Linked DNA regions of Homo sapiens: region 1 is linked to region 2. A link means that fine-mapping ties the variant in region 2 to the expression of a gene that starts in the linked region. Tissue or cell type: monocytes. Region 2 holds a variant in brackets; the other region holds the start of a gene. All regions are shown on one strand. Distances are from middle to middle.

What was found. PIP is the estimated chance that this variant, and not a neighbour inherited with it, causes the effect.
Region 1: it holds the start of ARHGEF2, and the variant in region 2 is fine-mapped to the expression of ARHGEF2 in monocytes (Kim-Hellmuth 2017, PIP 0.95).

What each region holds. Positions count from the first base shown.
Region 1 is chr1:155,975,397-155,983,396 of GRCh38, reverse strand. It overlaps ARHGEF2 (Rho/Rac guanine nucleotide exchange factor 2), which reads left to right and starts at 4,850. Exons shown (of 22, transcript NM_001162383.2): 1 at 4,850-5,032. The coding sequence starts at 4,970. It overlaps ARHGEF2-AS2 (ARHGEF2 antisense RNA 2), which reads right to left and starts at 4,758. Exons shown (of 3, transcript NR_183460.1): 1 at 4,703-4,758; 2 at 3,942-4,077; 3 at 409-2,530. RefSeq lists enhancers at 1,432-1,491, 3,656-3,705, 3,093-3,714, 4,176-4,245, 6,376-6,455 and 2 more and silencers at 4,586-4,635, 4,696-4,855.
Region 2 is chr1:155,923,764-155,931,763 of GRCh38, reverse strand. KHDC4 (KH domain containing 4, pre-mRNA splicing factor) reads left to right here. Exons shown (of 14, transcript NM_014949.4): 3 at 1,924-2,052; 4 at 2,389-2,468; 5 at 4,608-4,660; 6 at 4,925-5,088; 7 at 5,921-6,132. It also overlaps SCARNA4. Among named protein-coding and RNA genes, the nearest start is that of KHDC4, 6.6 kb to the left of the region's middle. The variant TTGTGTGTGTGTGTG/G (reference allele first, on the strand shown) is at 3,889.

The sequences.
Region 1 (8,000 bases), 52 kb before region 2:
TGAAATGCCCACATCCAGGAAGTCCTAGGAGGTCAGGATGGGGGCTTATCTTTCTCTCCCAATCCTTCCTCTTTCTTCCTTCCCATTCTGGCTCTGCTGGTCATGGCACCTTCATCCACCATCTCTCAGGAAGTTATCTTTTTCTTCATTTCCAGCATTACCTCCATCTCCTCATGTCTTCTTTTTCTCTATGCAGCTGCAGCCAGCTGGAAGGACATTCAGGTACCCGGGTAGGCTCCTCCCTGCGACAGACCTTCAGCTTCCTCTCGGGCATGACCGGAAAGGCCAAGGTAGGAGTCAGCTGGGGAAGCAGGAGGCTTGGGACCCACTGCCCTCTCCAGTTCCCTTTCTCCCATCCCACCATCGCCACCTCCCACCACTCCCCCTATTAGAAACTCAGAGCAATGGTTCCATTTTTTATTTTTTTATTTTTTTAAGAGAGGGGGTTTCTGTCTCCCAGGCTGGAGTACAATGGCACAATCATAGCTCACTGCAGCCTCTAACTCTTGGGCCCAGGAAATCCTCTTGCCTTTACCTCCCAAAGTGCAGGGATTACAGGTGTGAGCCACTGTGCCCAGCCAAATGCTTCAAATTTTAAGGAAACACATGCTATCTCTTCCAGCCTGTGTCTCTGTGTCCCAGTAAATCACCTTTTCTCTGCTTTCCCCTACGCATCCAGCTTAGCAGTCAGCTGTGGACAGATGGAAGGGGAAAAGGGCCAGGAACCTCAGAAGCTGAGGAATGGCCTAGCCCTCCCTCTCTTTAGGCCTCACATAGCTGACAGGTGGGCAGCGGAAACCTCAACCATTGGACATAATAATGATAATAATTACAGCACTACTTTTTACTTCTTCATAGAGTATCAGGGTTTGCAAAGTGCTTTTACACTCATAATTTTATGGGTGGGTACAGCAGCTGAAGGAGTTGAAATTAGACCACAGGCAGAGTAGAAGCTGGGAAAGTATATGATTATGGAAGCACATGCATACCCGTACATGTGCGGCCATGTGCTGTTCTGATCCCAGGAAGTGAAGGCACATTGTTCTCATCCTTATTACCAACCGTTGGGCTCTGGTGAAACCGGGAGCTCTGCCTGCTCCTTGAATTTGTTTCCACTTTCTTCATTTACTGTCAGAGTGAGCCGCCCCCCTTTTCCTCCCCTGGCCTCCCCAAGTATGCATGTGCTTTCCAACTCGGGGCGGCTTCTGAGTATTGAAAGAAACCCCAGGGAAATCATCATCATATTCACCTTGAAGAGCCATGAGATTCTCACCAGTAAGGTTGCCTGGGCTCCTCCCAGCCCCACCCGCAGTGCCAGGGTTCTCCCCTCTTCCAGCCTTTTTTTAGCCAAGATTCCCTTTTCTCTGGGTGGGCTGGGAAGGTCAAGATGAAAGCAGGTCATGTTGTTAGCACCTCTCACCACAGGCCATGGGTCGGGAGTTGAGGCTAATGGAGGCATGAGACTGGGTGAGTCTCAGAAGAGGAGCAGCTGGAGAATCTGAAAGCTGATGGGAGGGGAGGGCAGGTGGGACAGAGAGGTTTCTCTCCCATGGGGGAATGGAGATCTCGAAGGAACAAAGCAAAAGCAGAAACCTTGGGGTCTGAGTCTCACCTTCCTACAGGCTGTCTCACTGCAGGGTAGGGGAGTCTGCTAGTGGAATCACTCCCTTTTCTTGCCATGGGAATGGTAGGGGAAGTCAGTACTGCCCAGGGGCCATCCAGATCCCGGTTGGTCTGTTTGTCCACCCTTGACCTAACAGTCTGATGGAGGGTTGAGCAACCTGGTGAAGGGGAATGAGGGCAGAGACTCTGGAGCCCAGATGGGAAAGAGGGAAGCGCCAGAGTGAGTCAGGACATTGCCTCGCTCAGCCTTTCCTCCCCACGTCTGTCATCCTGTCTTCCTCTGTTTCCCTCTCCACCATCTCCTGCTACATCTTCCTTCCACCTTCATGAATGTGTGGGCCTGCTTCACTTAATCTCTTTCTCCATAAGCAGTAAACATCAGGGGGTGGGGCTGGAGAGAAGCTCAGTCAAGCAGTGAGAGAAGGAAGTAGCTTAGTCCCTCCTACTTGAGTAGCATTGCACACTTGATGAAACACTTTCAACTCATTTAATTCTTATAACAATTCTGGCAAAGATAAGTATTTCAATCTCAATTCTACAGACAAATACTTAAAGGTTAGTTACTTTGCCCAAGATCTCACAGCTCATAAGAGGTGGCGCCGTATTAGAAACTCAGGGCTTTGGCTGTGTATTGCCACTGTTTCTCTCAATAGCCGTAACACAACAGTTCATTCCCTCTCATCCTTCCCTTCTTCCAGCTTCTGGCTGGATGGCCACTTAAGGCAATTTGGCCTTAATCACCTCCTCCCAGAATATACAAGGTCCAGACCAATAGAAGAAAGAAGAAAAACAAACCACCTTGGGACAGTGTAGAGCTTGGGCTTGGGTATCCTCGGGAGACCCATCTCTTCTCCAACTGGCCGAGACTTTGGCAACCAGGTTCTTCCCTGGGACCTCCTCCCTACCCCTGAAATGGGAGGGACACATTTCGTCAAGTTAAATGGGCTAAAGAAGGTGATGGCTATTTTTAGATCCTGGTAGAAATGTTTGTTTCTGTGTATCTAAAAAATTATTTCTGAAAATCTGGAAGATATCACTGGATAGGAGTAGAGGGGGCGCTGGAATGAAGAAGGGTCTTGGAAAAGGGGGGCAGGTGACACCAAGGAGAAGGGAAAAGTGTTCATTGTTCAAGAGGATATAGAAAACGGAAACTGAGTCAAGCTGCAGGCCAAGCTCACTAAACACAGGTGTTTTTAAAGGCAGAACACTTTTCTTTTCCCTGTCCCTAGTCCCTTTCCTTGTTATTCATCTCCTAAGGGGAAGAAGAGGGCATAGGGTGAGGGGTAGGGTAACAGCAGGTGGGATGGAAAGTAGACTGAAGGTTGGGGTGGGAGACAGAAAAGAGTTGGAGGGTCGGGTCCTCTTCTTTCATAGAGACCTTCTTAGTTGAGTTGAGGGACCATGAGGTCGCTTGAAAAACCCCAGGGTTCAAATTCTATGTTTCCTGGGTACCCAGGCTGGAGTGTGGCCCTTTAAGATTCTATCCATAGCTTGCAGCACCCTCCTGCCCCAGGCCTGGGAGAGAAGCTGAGGTCCCACCCCAGATCTTGTCTCTGGGCCTCCAGTGGGTGGAACCTTGAGGCCAAGATTCTAGCCTCTGGCTGTCTGTTTTTAAATTTAGTACATTCCTGAGTCTTGGCTGCCCACCTCAGGGGAGGTGAGTCTGGAGTTCTGGGGCCAGGAGCCTCAGGCCTCTTGGTTTGGGGGAGTTCCTACACCCTCCCCGTAGGTATACTTGGCAGGTGCAAGCCAGGAAGAACAAGCTGTGGCCCTGGGGAAGTCCTTCCTGCTTTCTAATGTCCATCCAGCCTGAACTGGGCACGGTTTATTTCCTCTTCCTTTTTCCTGGTCTTTGCTATTTAAGGATTCTAAACAGGGGAATGGGTGAAGAAGGAGGTGAAGGAGTTGCTAGGAAGGAGGGGAAGCCGGAGGGGCAGTGTGGGGGTAGTGCTGGGGGTGAGGAGCCCAACCAGCTCAGCCAGTGGTGAGGTAGTGGAGCCCAAAAATAGTGGCAGAGGCTAAAATTGGCACCTACAAGAGTGCTGAGTTGGGCTTGAAACCTGCAGCCTGGCCCCACTGCTGAGCCAGGGCAGAGAACTGCTGGATCTGGGTTGGGTCTCCCCTCCCTCCCTTCTTCTCCCACGCCCTTTGGGGCCAGAATCAGGCAGGACCCTGCTAACCGAAGGCTCTGTCCCAGGCCTCTCTGTGCTTCTGGTTTCTCCAGAGAAATGGGAGACCCTGAGAGGCAGAAATGAACTTCACTGTAAGTGATCATAGTTAGACTGGAGGAGGAATTTTCCCAATAGCAGGAAACTCACCCAAAGGCTGGCTCAGGCTGGGGAAAAGGGTCCAGAGAGATGAATGCCCCACCTTACCCTGCTTCTTGGGGAGAGGCTGGTTGGGCCCTAACTTTCTTTGACTAGGGCAGGCTGGTTTCTGGTCTTTCAGTTCCGGCTTAACTTGCAACAGAGAGAACTGCAGTTAGACACATGGAAGGCCTTCGGTAAAAGTGGAGAATCCCAACCTAGTCCCCCAAAGTAGCTGGCAGAGGCGGAGCTAGGAGGAGGGCAGAGTGGGGTCAGGAAGGCCCCAGAAGGGTGGGGCATGTGGGAGAATTCTCTCCTCTCTGTTCTTCGACCTCTGGGAGTGAATCCTACCCTTCCCGTGTACTGAAGATCCAGCGTTTAGTTCTCCTTTGATTTCCTCTCCCTCTGGCCACCCCTGCCCCCAATCGTAAAAGGGGTCAGTCTGCTCAGGCCTGCTTTGATGGGACCCCGAAGGCCAGGAAGGAACTGGTCCTGGGTTTTCTAAGAGCTGGGGGCGGATGGAATTCTCCTGCCTGCGGGTCTTTAAAGACTGAGGTAACGCAGTAGGGGAGGGAAAAAGGGAGGGCGAGGGGAGAAGGGAAGAAGGGGAGGGCAGAGGGGAAAGGGCCAACCTGGGTCCGGCGAGGGCTGCGGGGCTGGGTTTTAGGAAAAGAAGAGCTAAGAGGCGGGTCTCTGGGGCTAGAGGGCGCCCCCAGGCGCTGGAGGGGAAATAGGCAGAGGGGCCTCTCAAACCTGTCCTAGGACCCTCGTACCTCTCCGAGCTGCCCCCACACAAACCCTGGCGTCCCGTCCTGCGCGCGGGCACCCCGCCCTCCCTCCGCTCCGCCTACCCCCTTCCTGAGCTTGGGCGGGGGAGGAGACTCGGGTTTGAGGAACTGGTGCTGGGTGCCGGGCGAGGGGAGTCAGACTTCCTGTCCCCGAGACCAACGCGTGCGGGCCGAACCCCTCCCCCCGCCTTCCCCCAACAATACAGGACGCCGGGGTCCGCGCCGCGTCCTCCCTGGTCCCCCCGTCCGATTATGTCTCGGATCGAATCCCTCACGCGGGCGCGGATCGACCGGAGCAGAGAGCTGGCGAGCAAGGTGGGCTCGGAAACCCCTCTCCTTTCGCCGCGGTCCTCGGGTGCTCCCCGAACCCCGGCACCCGCGGTGCATCTCCTGTCTCCCCGCCTGCTTTCTGGGCGCCAAAATCGGGCGGAGCGGTGGATCGGCGAGCGGCGGGACGGGGTGGGTGGGGACTGCGAGCGAGTGGGTAGGGGTGGGGGGAGCGGCAGACGCGACGGTGCTGGGATCCCGGGAGGGAGCGGAGCGGACCTGGGCTTGGTCGCCTCCAAGCCGGCGGGACCGAGTGCTTTAGGCCGCTTGAAAGAAAGTTGCTCCGGTAAGGGACGGAGCGGGAAGAGGGAGGTGTGTGTCTCGCGGGTGGGGGCGGTGGAAGCTCCGGCACCTCCTCTCACCCCGGGCCCCACCGGCTTGGGCTTGGCGTGGCGACCCCCCATCACTCCCCAATCGCTGGCTTGGTCGTTCCCCCTTTGTCCCCGCCATCCGGCGGAGGGGACGGGAGGGGGTGGTTTCCCGGCTTCCTCCCACCACCACCACCACCCCTCCAAGACAAAAGTCAGCTCCTCCTCTCCTCGCAAATGGACTTTCCAGCTGTGATTCAGTTCTCCCCTCTGGGTGGGCGGGTGGCTGGGGTCGGGACGGCCGAGGGACGGCTTACTTCCCCCAAACCATCACCTCTAGGTGAAGGGAGCAGAGGTCTTTGTGTAGCTGGGCTCCTTTCCTCCATCCTGAGCCCTTCTGCCTGGAACATAGGGCCTCCATCCCTATCTGCCCCGCCAGCCTCCTAGCTCTTCCTTCTCCCAACCTGAAACCCTTAGGCTGACACACCTGGCACTATGCATTGTGTTCCCTGCCCTTCCTCCTCCTCCCCCAGCGCTCTCATTCTCTTATCTGCTCGTCTTGGGGTCCCTTCACCTAGCATTTCATGAGTCTGGGTGTATAATTATCCACACGCCTCCCCCATCATGACCTCTTGGCCACTCCTCTCCAAGTACCCTTTATCCCTGCCTTTGTACCCAGCCCCATTCCCAAGTGCCCTGACCTTTCCACACCCAGACCCCAGGAAATGATGAAGCTGACTTGCAGGTGAATAAGTCAGAGCTGAAAGGAAGGTGGTGCCTGCAGACAGCACCTCCCAGCTCCTTTGGGGCCCCCGCACTGTACCCATTATCAGAAAGGACAGGTCCCAGCCCAGAGTTGGTTTAATCTCTGGCTTCTCTCCAACCTGAGTGCCCTACTACCCTGGTGCCAGCCTATGCTGATCACCAACTTCAGCCAAGGGAGCAGTACCCCTTAGGAGTCCTTAAGGGTGATGGAAAGCCCTCCCCTCCACCTCCCTGGTAGTTCCTAGCCAGGCTACCTGTCTTGATGCTAAACTGGGAGAGACAGAGGTTCCATCCTGGGTTGGGGGTGGAGGGCCAGGGAAAGCAGCTTTAAAAGGACTTTCCTTAGGGGGTTGGGATTAGATTTTGCTATCTGGAAAGCAACTGGGGATTCGAGTAGGGCCTAAGACAAACAGAGGGCCGGGGTGAGGTGGCTGAAGTGTGGTGGAACAGTGGGGTGGCAGACAGGCTCTTCACAGCCTGCGCCAGCCCAGGCCCCAGCTCCAAAAGTCTGTTTATTTTTTCAACCGTTTGAGCTGAGACCCTGGAGTAGAGCCAAGGGGGGCGGGGGAGGTTTTTTGAAACCGCAGAAATTTGGTTCCACCCTAAAAAGGAAAGCCATGGGGGAGCTGGTTGGGGGAAGACCTGGCTAGGGGGTATAGAGAGCGGTTCTGTGGGGGCAGGTAGCTACTGGGATCCCTTTTCCATTATTGTGGGGAGCTGGGACGTCAGACATCTGGGTGTTCATGCTCTGTTTTTGTTTTTGTTTTTGGTGGTGGGGGGACTGGCTCTTCTTTCTACTATGGGGGCTGGCTGTGTGGGGCAGGTAATTTGGGAATCTGGCTGGCAGCAGGGAGTCGGGGGCTGAGTGGGTGGATCTGAGAGGGCAAAGAGGCCACCGGAGAAGGGTGGTTGTCAGTTTGGGCCGGTCGGAAGGGGAGGGCCACCTCCGGAAAACTGTGGTTACAGAAGGGGGAGTTGGTTCTTAGCCAACAAACCCTGGATCCCCTCTCCCCCTCCCCCCAGCACACCAGCTGTCTCCTTTCTTTTTATACTGTGGTGGGAAGTAGAGGGGCACCCGCTGGAAAAGACATTATTTGAAGAAGATGGTGTCCCCTGCTACCTCCTTGGGGGGATGGGTCACAGCTAAGCCCTGACACCTCAGCCCCTCCCCATTCCTTGCCTCATTCCCTGGGAGCTCCTCCTAGGAGGAGGAATGTAAGTTTAACCTGCCCCTTTCTCTGTCCCATCCTCACAGGATCTCTCTGTGTAGCCCCCTCCATGCTTCCTTTTTCTTTTCACTCCATTTCTGTTCTCCCAGGCTGTCTTCAGTCCTCCACCTCCTCTGTTCTCTCTGCTCTACTTCCTACCTCCACAAGCCCCAAACCTCACAGGTCCCCTTTCTCTCTTTAGTCCCCTGTTCTTCCCTTTCTCCTTTCCCAAACCCCAACCATCATATCCCTTAGAACAAAGGGTCCTTTTCTGCCAAGCAGGGACCAGAGGTCCAGGGATGGCTGTGGAGGCTGGGGGTCCCCTTGGAATCTCTGTGGTGGGCAGGTGGAGTGGGGAGTGTGCAGAGCGACTATTTCTTTGTTCTGAGGAATGGAGAGGTGGCTGGCTTTGTGTGCAGGACTAGGAGTGCAGTGGAGAGGAGAGCTGGGGGAGCCCAGGAGGGAGCTGAGAGGGCTGACGGTGTTGGAGGAGAGTGGAAGAATGGGGGGTCCTCCTGGTGGCTGAGGCTTCTGGGGACATAGACAAAAATTCTAGGGGTCGTGGAGGTTAGGGAGAGAGTTGAGGGGGAGGGGAGAAGTGAGGATAGGGGAAGGGAGTCTAAAGCTTAGGGAAGTCACTGAGTGACTTGCAGGAGGTTAGATGGGGCCTAGAGA
Region 2 (8,000 bases):
AACAGTATGTTACCTTCTTGAGCAGATTTTCTAGACATAGGTTGGGGAGATAGGCCCCTGTAGTCCCAGCTACTCAGGAGGTTAAAGCGGGTGGGTGGATCACTTGAGGCCAGGAGTTCAAGAACAGCCTGGGCAACATGGTGAAACCCTGTCTCTACAGAAAATACAAAAACAATTAGCTAGGTGTGGTGCATGCCTGTGGTTCCAGGGTCTGGCTTGATTGCCCAGGCAGTGACTGTGCAGTGGCACAGTCTCTTCCTCCCAGGCTCAGCCTCCCAAGTAGCTGCGACTACAGACGCATGCCACCATGCCCGGCTAATTTTTTTTATTTTTTGAAGAGATGGGTTTGCCATGTTGCCCACCCTGCTTCAGCCTCCCAAAGTGCTGGGATTACAGGCATGAGCCTGTTTGGTTCCTTCGTTCATTCTTTCTTTCTTTCTTTCTGTCTTTCTGTCTTTTTTTTTTTTTTTTTTGGTGATAGAGTCTTGCTTTGTTGCCCAGGCTGGAGTTCAGTGGCACAATCACTGCTTTCTGCTGCCTCAGCCTGCTGAGTAGCTGAGACTACAGTCTCATGCCACCGTGCCCAGCTAATGTTTTGTATTTTTTTAGAGATGTGGTTTTGCCATGTTACCCAGGCTGGTCTGAAACTCTTGGGCTCAAGCGATCCACCCTCCTCAGCCTCCTAAAGTGCTAGGATTACAGATGTGAGCCACCGGTCCCAGCCTTTTTTTGTAATTTATATATTTATTTTTGAGACAGAGTTTTGCTCTTGTTGCCCAGGCTGGAGTGCGATGGCGTGATCTCGGCTCATTGCAACCTCTGCCTCCCGGCTTCAAGCAATTCTGCCTGAGCCTCCGGAGTAGCTGGGATTACAGGCACGAACCACCACACCTGGCTAATTTTGTATGTTTACTAGAGACGGGGTTTCACCATGTTGACCAGGCTGATCACAAACTCCATGTAGTTTAAATTGAAAGAAACCGGATCAGGTTTTACCATCTTACTGTTTTTTCATTCTTCTTTGTTCTGCTGTAATAGAGTGAGGAATTATTAGTTAGATACAATTTAAGGGTTTTTGAGAGCTTTACAAGGATGGAGTTAGTTGGATTTTATGTTAGGATTATAGGAGTGGCACAAAGACAACTTCCTATTGTATGCATGAGGTATATGTATTGTAGGCATTGCTCCTCTACCTTCTATTGTGTTTTACTCCATGTACAGCCAACTAACTGAGCTATAGAGTATCATAACTTGGCCCTTTAATTTTCTTTTTGAAGGTTGTAGCTTCTAGTCCCTAGAGCTTCTGTAATTAGGTGGTCATAAAAATGCACATAGGGCCAAGGTCACAGAGAAATCTTGATTGTGGCCTTCAAGCAGATTGACTTTATTATTGACTTTATTTAATGTCATTTTAGTGAGATTTTTGTTTGCTTGTTAATTCGTTTATGAAGAATGACCAACTGTGTTTACAGGCAGATGAAGGGAAGGGTAGGGAGGTGTGGGACTTGGGAAAGGATAGTTGTACATTGGATGACTAAAAGGCTTTATCTCAGCTGGGCACAGTGGCTCACGCCTGTAATCCCAGCACTTTGGGAGGCCGAGGTAGGTGGATCACCTGAGGTCAGGAGTTCGAGACCAGCCTGGCCAACACGGTGAAACCCCGTCTCTACTAAAAATCCGAAAATTAGCTGGGCATGGTGCTGCACACCTGTAATCCCAGCTACTCAGGAGGCTGAGGCAGGAGAATTGCTTGAACCCAGGAGGCGGAAGTTGCAGTGAGCTGAGATCACGCCACTGCACTCCATCCTGGGCGACAGACTCCATCTCAAAAAAATGAAAAAATAAATAAGTAAATAAATAAAATAAAAAAATAGACTTTATCTCATCATAAAAACTTTTTAATCTAATTTCTCTTTTTTCTAGCTTCAGGCTCCTGGCAAAGGCCTAACTAGCAATAAAAGCAAGGATGACCTGGTGGTAGCTGAAGTAGAAATTAATGATGTGCCTCTCACATGTAGGAACTTGCTGACTCGAGGACAGACTCAAGACGAGGTGAGGAGGCATTGAGACTCTTTGGGGAGGGCGGTGAGTGGATTCAGATAAAGAAGACCTCTAAATAGACAGGCGTCAGATATTTATTAGTGGGTTTGGGTCATAGTCTCTAAAGTCAGGATTGGGTTTAATTTAACTTCAGAGGAAGATAATGGAATGGATATAAATGAATTCTCTGGGTTGGTTTGAGTAAGAAACCATGGAATCAAAATTTCAGATACAGGAGAGAATTCTTTCCTTCTTTACTTGGTTGAATGAATGAATGGGAAGAAAATCTGTCTGCCATTGAAATCAACCAATTGCCACATTTTTTTAATTGAACATTTCCTTTTTTAGATCAGCCGACTTAGTGGGGCTGCAGTATCAACTCGAGGGAGGTTCATGACAACTGAGGAAAAAGCCAAAGTGGGACCAGGGTGCGTATTCTCTTATCTTGTTTATGGAAGGGTTGGGTGTATGACTCACGTTAGCCTCATGTTTTTTATCCTTAGGTAATACGTGTACACAATATTTGATTCAAGGTTTGAGGGGTATGTGTGTGCACACTATAGCAGAATTCTGGATATCAAACAGATACAAGATGTTGGGACCTGTTTTTGGACTTTTATTTCACATTTAATGTTTTTATTGGAGGAAACAAATTATAGGAAAGTGTAAAAGAAGATACTAACCACTAACATTTAATGTATATACTCTTTTTTCTTCTTTCTGTTCCATATGATCTGCAGAAATAATGTATATACTTTTTTTTTTTTTTTTTGAGATGGAGTCTTGCTCTGTCGCCCAGGCTATAGTGCAGTGGCGTGATCTCGGCTCACTTCAAACTCTGCCTCCTGGGTTCATGCCATTCTCCTACCTCAGCCTCCCGAGTAGCTGGGACTACAGGCACCTGCCACCACGCCTGGCTAATTTTTTGTATTTTTAGTAGAGACAGAGCTTCACCGTGTTAGCCAGGATGGTCTTGATCTCCTGACCTTGTGATCCACCCCCCTCGGCCTCCCAAAGTGCTGGGATTACAGGCGTGAGCCACCACGCCCGGCATTGTATATACTTCTTAACTTTTTTCTGTGGAAATAGTTCCCCTCACAAATGGGCTCTTTTTTTTTTTTTTTTTTTTTGTCTTTATGATGGTTATAGTTTGTGATTATTCAGGTAAAGACTTAATCTGTTTCATTTTATTCCTTCCATCATTCCGTGTTTGAGTTTCTCTTCACTGTCAGTTGATAGGTACTTAGGGAATGCAACATTTTTAACATTAGCTTAAACTACACAAAATAAGGTGGCAAAATTTAATTCCTACCCCAAGCCAAGAATTTATTTATTTATTTATTTATTAGAGAAGGAGTTTTTGCTCTTGTTGCCCAGGCTGGAGTGCAATGGCGCCATCTCGGCTCACTGCAACCTCTGCCTCCTGGGTTCAAGCAATTCTCTGGCCTCACCCTCCCGAGTAGCTGGGATTACAAGCATGCGCCACCACACCCGGCTAAATTTTGTATTTTTAGTAGAGATGGGGTTTCACGATGTTGGACAGGCTGGTCTCAAAAGTCCTGACCTCGGGTGGTTCCCCTGCCTCGGCCTCCCAAAGTGCTGGGATTACAGGCATGAGCCACCGTGCCCAGCCCCAAGAATGTATTTAAACTTTCTATATGTGTTGATTGCTGTTTTGAACTTTGTCTTTAAAAAGTTATTTTTACCTGCTACTTTTTATTAACTATATATGGTTATTGATCACTTTATTATAATTTAAGTCCTCTTCACATTTAGAATCTAAATTATCAGTTGATGTAGACCTTAAGAGGTTTCTCTATATGCATGATCAATCTTTCCCCATTAATT[TTGTGTGTGTGTGTG/G]TGTGTGTGTGTGTGTGTGTGTGTGTGTGGTTTTTTTTTTTTTTTTTTTTTTTTTTTTGGAGACAGAGTCTTGTTCTGTTGCCCCGGCTGGTGTGCAATGGCATGATCTTGGGTCATTGCAACCTCCACCTCCTGGGTTCAAGTGATTCTTGTGCCTCAGCCTCCTGAGTAGCTGGGACTACAGGCGTGCCACCATGCCCGGCTAATTTTTGTAATTTCAGTAGAGATGGGGTTTTGCCATGTTGGCCAGGCTGGTCTCAAACTCTTGGCCTCATGTCATCCACCCACCTCAGCCTCCCAAAGTGCTGGGATTACAGACATGAGCCACAGCACCCAGCTTGCCCCATTGATTTGGATAGACGAGACCACATTTGTTTATAACCTATTAGACAACCAGCAAAAAGGAATTCTGTTCTTAAATATTGGGTTATCTCAATAGACTGGAAAATAATGGTAGTGAATCCATAAGAACAGATTTGATCTGAACTCTGTGGGCCAGTTGACTTTTAAAATCAAGAAGTTTATTTGTTCCCCAGCTGTTAAAGCATGTTCTGAGACATTAGCTAGCAAAAACCCTTCTAATGTATATAGTCCCTTTTGGTTATTTGGAAACTTGAAACATTACAAATTAGATCTGGTGACCCATTTGACTCCTTTTTTGGTTTTGACCACATTGAGATCATCCTTTTTTGTTTCTCTTTATAGGGATCGTCCATTATATCTTCATGTTCAGGGCCAGACACGGGAATTAGTGGACAGTAAGTAATGTTTTTGGCTCACGTAGCACTTTTTGTGAAGAGCAAAGTACAGGGCTCTGTATAGCAAGTTGGCAAAGTGTCCCTGATGGCTGTTCTAACCCTTGTTCATGAACTATACACGAATTTGTATGGGAGTTTAGAGGGATGGAGAGCCACATATTTGGGTAACGTATAAAGCAGATTTACGGTGAATAATTGAACACTGGCCTGCCTGGGCACTAGTCAGTTCATTCCATTCAGTTTTACTGTCTGTGTTTTTCTAAGGAGCTGTAAACCGGATCAAAGAAATTATCACCAATGGAGTGGTAAAAGCTGCCACAGGAACAAGTCCAACTTTTAATGGTGCAACAGTAACTGTCTATCACCAGCCAGCACCCATCGCTCAGTTGTCTCCAGCTGTTAGCCAGAAGCCTCCCTTCCAGTCAGGGGTATGTTTTGGGGAGGGATCGTTAATAGCATTATCATTTCTATAAAAATGATATGTGCTGGCCAGGCACAGTGGCTCATTCCTGTAATCCCAGCACTTTGGGAGGCCAAGGTGGGTGGATCATTTGAGGTCAGGAATTTGGACCAGCCTGACCAACGTGGTGAAACCCCGTCACGAACATTACCCGGGCATGGTGGCAGGCACCTGTAACCCCAGCTACTTGGGAGGCTGAGGCAGGAGAATTGCTTGAAGCCGGGAGGTGGAGGTTGCAGGGAGCTGAGACCATGCCACTGCACTCCAGCCTGGGCCACAGAGCAAGACTCCATCTCAAAAAAAAAAAAAAAAAAAAAAGTGCCAAGTAATACATACAAAGAAAAAAAAATCGTGAAATTCCAAATTCCAATCCCGAAAGTTACCTGCCATAGGTATTCTGTTTGTGTGTTATCCAGCTCTCCACGGTATAATGAACACCTGATCACACATTTCTTCATATTGATATATTCTAGAAAGGAGATTGATAGAGCAGAAGGTATACATGTTGTACATTTTGAAGTTAGTGGTTTTAATTTGTATTTGTAAACTTGATGACAACTGGAGGACTAAGAAGGCTGAGTCTGATGAAGTAAGACTTTGCTGATACATTCCTCCTAGAAAAAAGGGTTGGAGAGAGCAGCCTTCACTGAAGAGTATCACAGGGCTGACTGTACTACCCAACACTCTACCCCAGTTTTACAGGAGACTGTCTTTGCTATAATTTCTTATTGACTTATTTCAAAGATTGAGGATTTAATTATATATTCTGTTTAATCTGAAGTATTCTGTTCTTCCTACAGATGCATTATGTTCAAGATAAATTATTTGTGGGTCTAGAACATGCTGTACCCACTTTTAATGTCAAGGAGAAGGTGGAAGGTCCAGGCTGCTCCTATTTGCAGCACATTCAGATTGAAACAGGTGCCAAAGTCTTCCTGCGGGGCAAAGGTTCAGGCTGCATTGAGCCAGCATCTGGCCGAGAAGCTTTTGAACCTATGTATATTTACATCAGGTATGGATGGATAGGGCAGGGGACATGTGAATTCTTGTCAACTTGTTGGTACAGTCAGGAGTGATTCAGAAGGAGCAAGAGAAAACTGGGTGTAATTAATAGTAATGAGGGATTTAGATAAATGCTAGGAGTAATTACTTTATAATTAGTTAAAGAAATTGTAGAATTGGGGCACGGTGGCTCATGCCTGTAATCCCAACACTTCTGGAGGCCAAGGCGTAGGACCACTTGAGCCCAGGAGTTTGAGGCCAGCCTGGGCAACATAGCAAAACCCCATCTCTCCAAAAAAATTTTAAAAATTAGGCGGGCACGGTGGCTCACACCTGTAATCCCAGCACTTTGGGAGGCCGAGGCGGGTGGATCACGAGGTCAGGAGATCGAGACCATCCTGGCTAACAAGGTGAAACCCCGTCTCTACTAAAAATAAAACAAAAAAAATTAGCCGGGTGTGGTGGCAGGCGCCTGTAGTCCCAGCTACTCAGGAGGCTGAGGCAGGAGAATGGCGTGAACCCGGGAGGTGGAGCTTGCAGTGAGCTGAGATTGCGCCACTGCACTCCAGCCTGGGTGACAGAGCGAGACTCCATCTCAAAAAAAAAAAAAAATTAGCCAGGTGTTATGGTGTACACCTTAATCCCAGCTGCTCAGTAGGCTGAGGCAGGAGGATGGCTTGAGCCCAGGAGATTAAGGCTGCAGGTAGCTGTGTTTGCACCACTGCACTCCAGACTGGGTGACTGAGTGAGACCCTGTCTTAAAAAAAAAACCAGGTGCGGTGGCTCACACCTGTAATCCCAGCACTTTGGGAGGCCGAGGCAGGCGGATCACTTGAGGTCAGGAGTTCGAGACTACCCTGGCCAACATGGTGAAACCCTGACTCTCCTAAAAGTATAAAAATTAGCCAGGTGTGGTGGCAGGCACCTATAATCCCAGCTATTCAGCAGGCTGAGGTAGGAGAATTGCTTGAACCCTGGAGGCGGAGGTTGCAGTGAGCTGAGACTGCTCCATTGCACTCCAGCCTGGGCAACAGAGCAAGACTCCATCTCAAAAAAAAAAAAAAAAAGAGAAATTATTGAATTAGGAGACGGAATTATCTCTTTAGTATTCAAGTCCTTTGGTTTTGTACAAGTCTGTACAAAAGTGAATCTTGGCCTGTAATCCCAGCACTTTCAGGGCCGAGGCGGATGAATCAGGTCAGGAGATTGAGACCATCCTGGCTAATACAGTGAAATCCCGTTTCTACTAAAAATAAAACAAAAAAATTAGCCAGGCATGGTGGCAGGCGCCTGTAGTGCCAGCAACTCGGGGGCTGAGGCAGGAGAATGACGTGAACCCAGGAGGTGGAGCTTGCAGTGAGCTGAGATCGCGCCACTGCACTCCAGCCTGGGCAACAGAGCAAGATTCTGTCGCCTCCTGCCTCAGCGTCCCAAGTAGCTGGGACTATAGGCACCCGCCAACATGCCCGGCTAATTTTTTGTATTTTTAGTAGAGATGGGGTTTCACCGTGTTAGCCAGGATGGTCTCGATCTCCTGACCTCGTGATCCGCCTGTCTCGGTCTCCCAAAGTGCTGGGATTACAGGCGTGAACCACCACGCCCGGCCAAAAAAAAGCAAATCTTAAAGTGAGCTGTGATAAGTCTGAAATAATTTTCATTTAAACCTATGTCAATATTAATACGTTTTATAGTAATTTTATGAACTTTAAACATTTTTATATCGAGAAGTACCATTACTCAGAGAAAGACTAATAAAATATTTGTGGTAATGATAGTGGTTATATCTTAAAAGACTTATGTTTTGTGTTTCTGTTTTGTGATTTTCAGAGGCCTAGATTTGAGCTACAGTGAATGTATTAATGTAGATATGTAAAATAG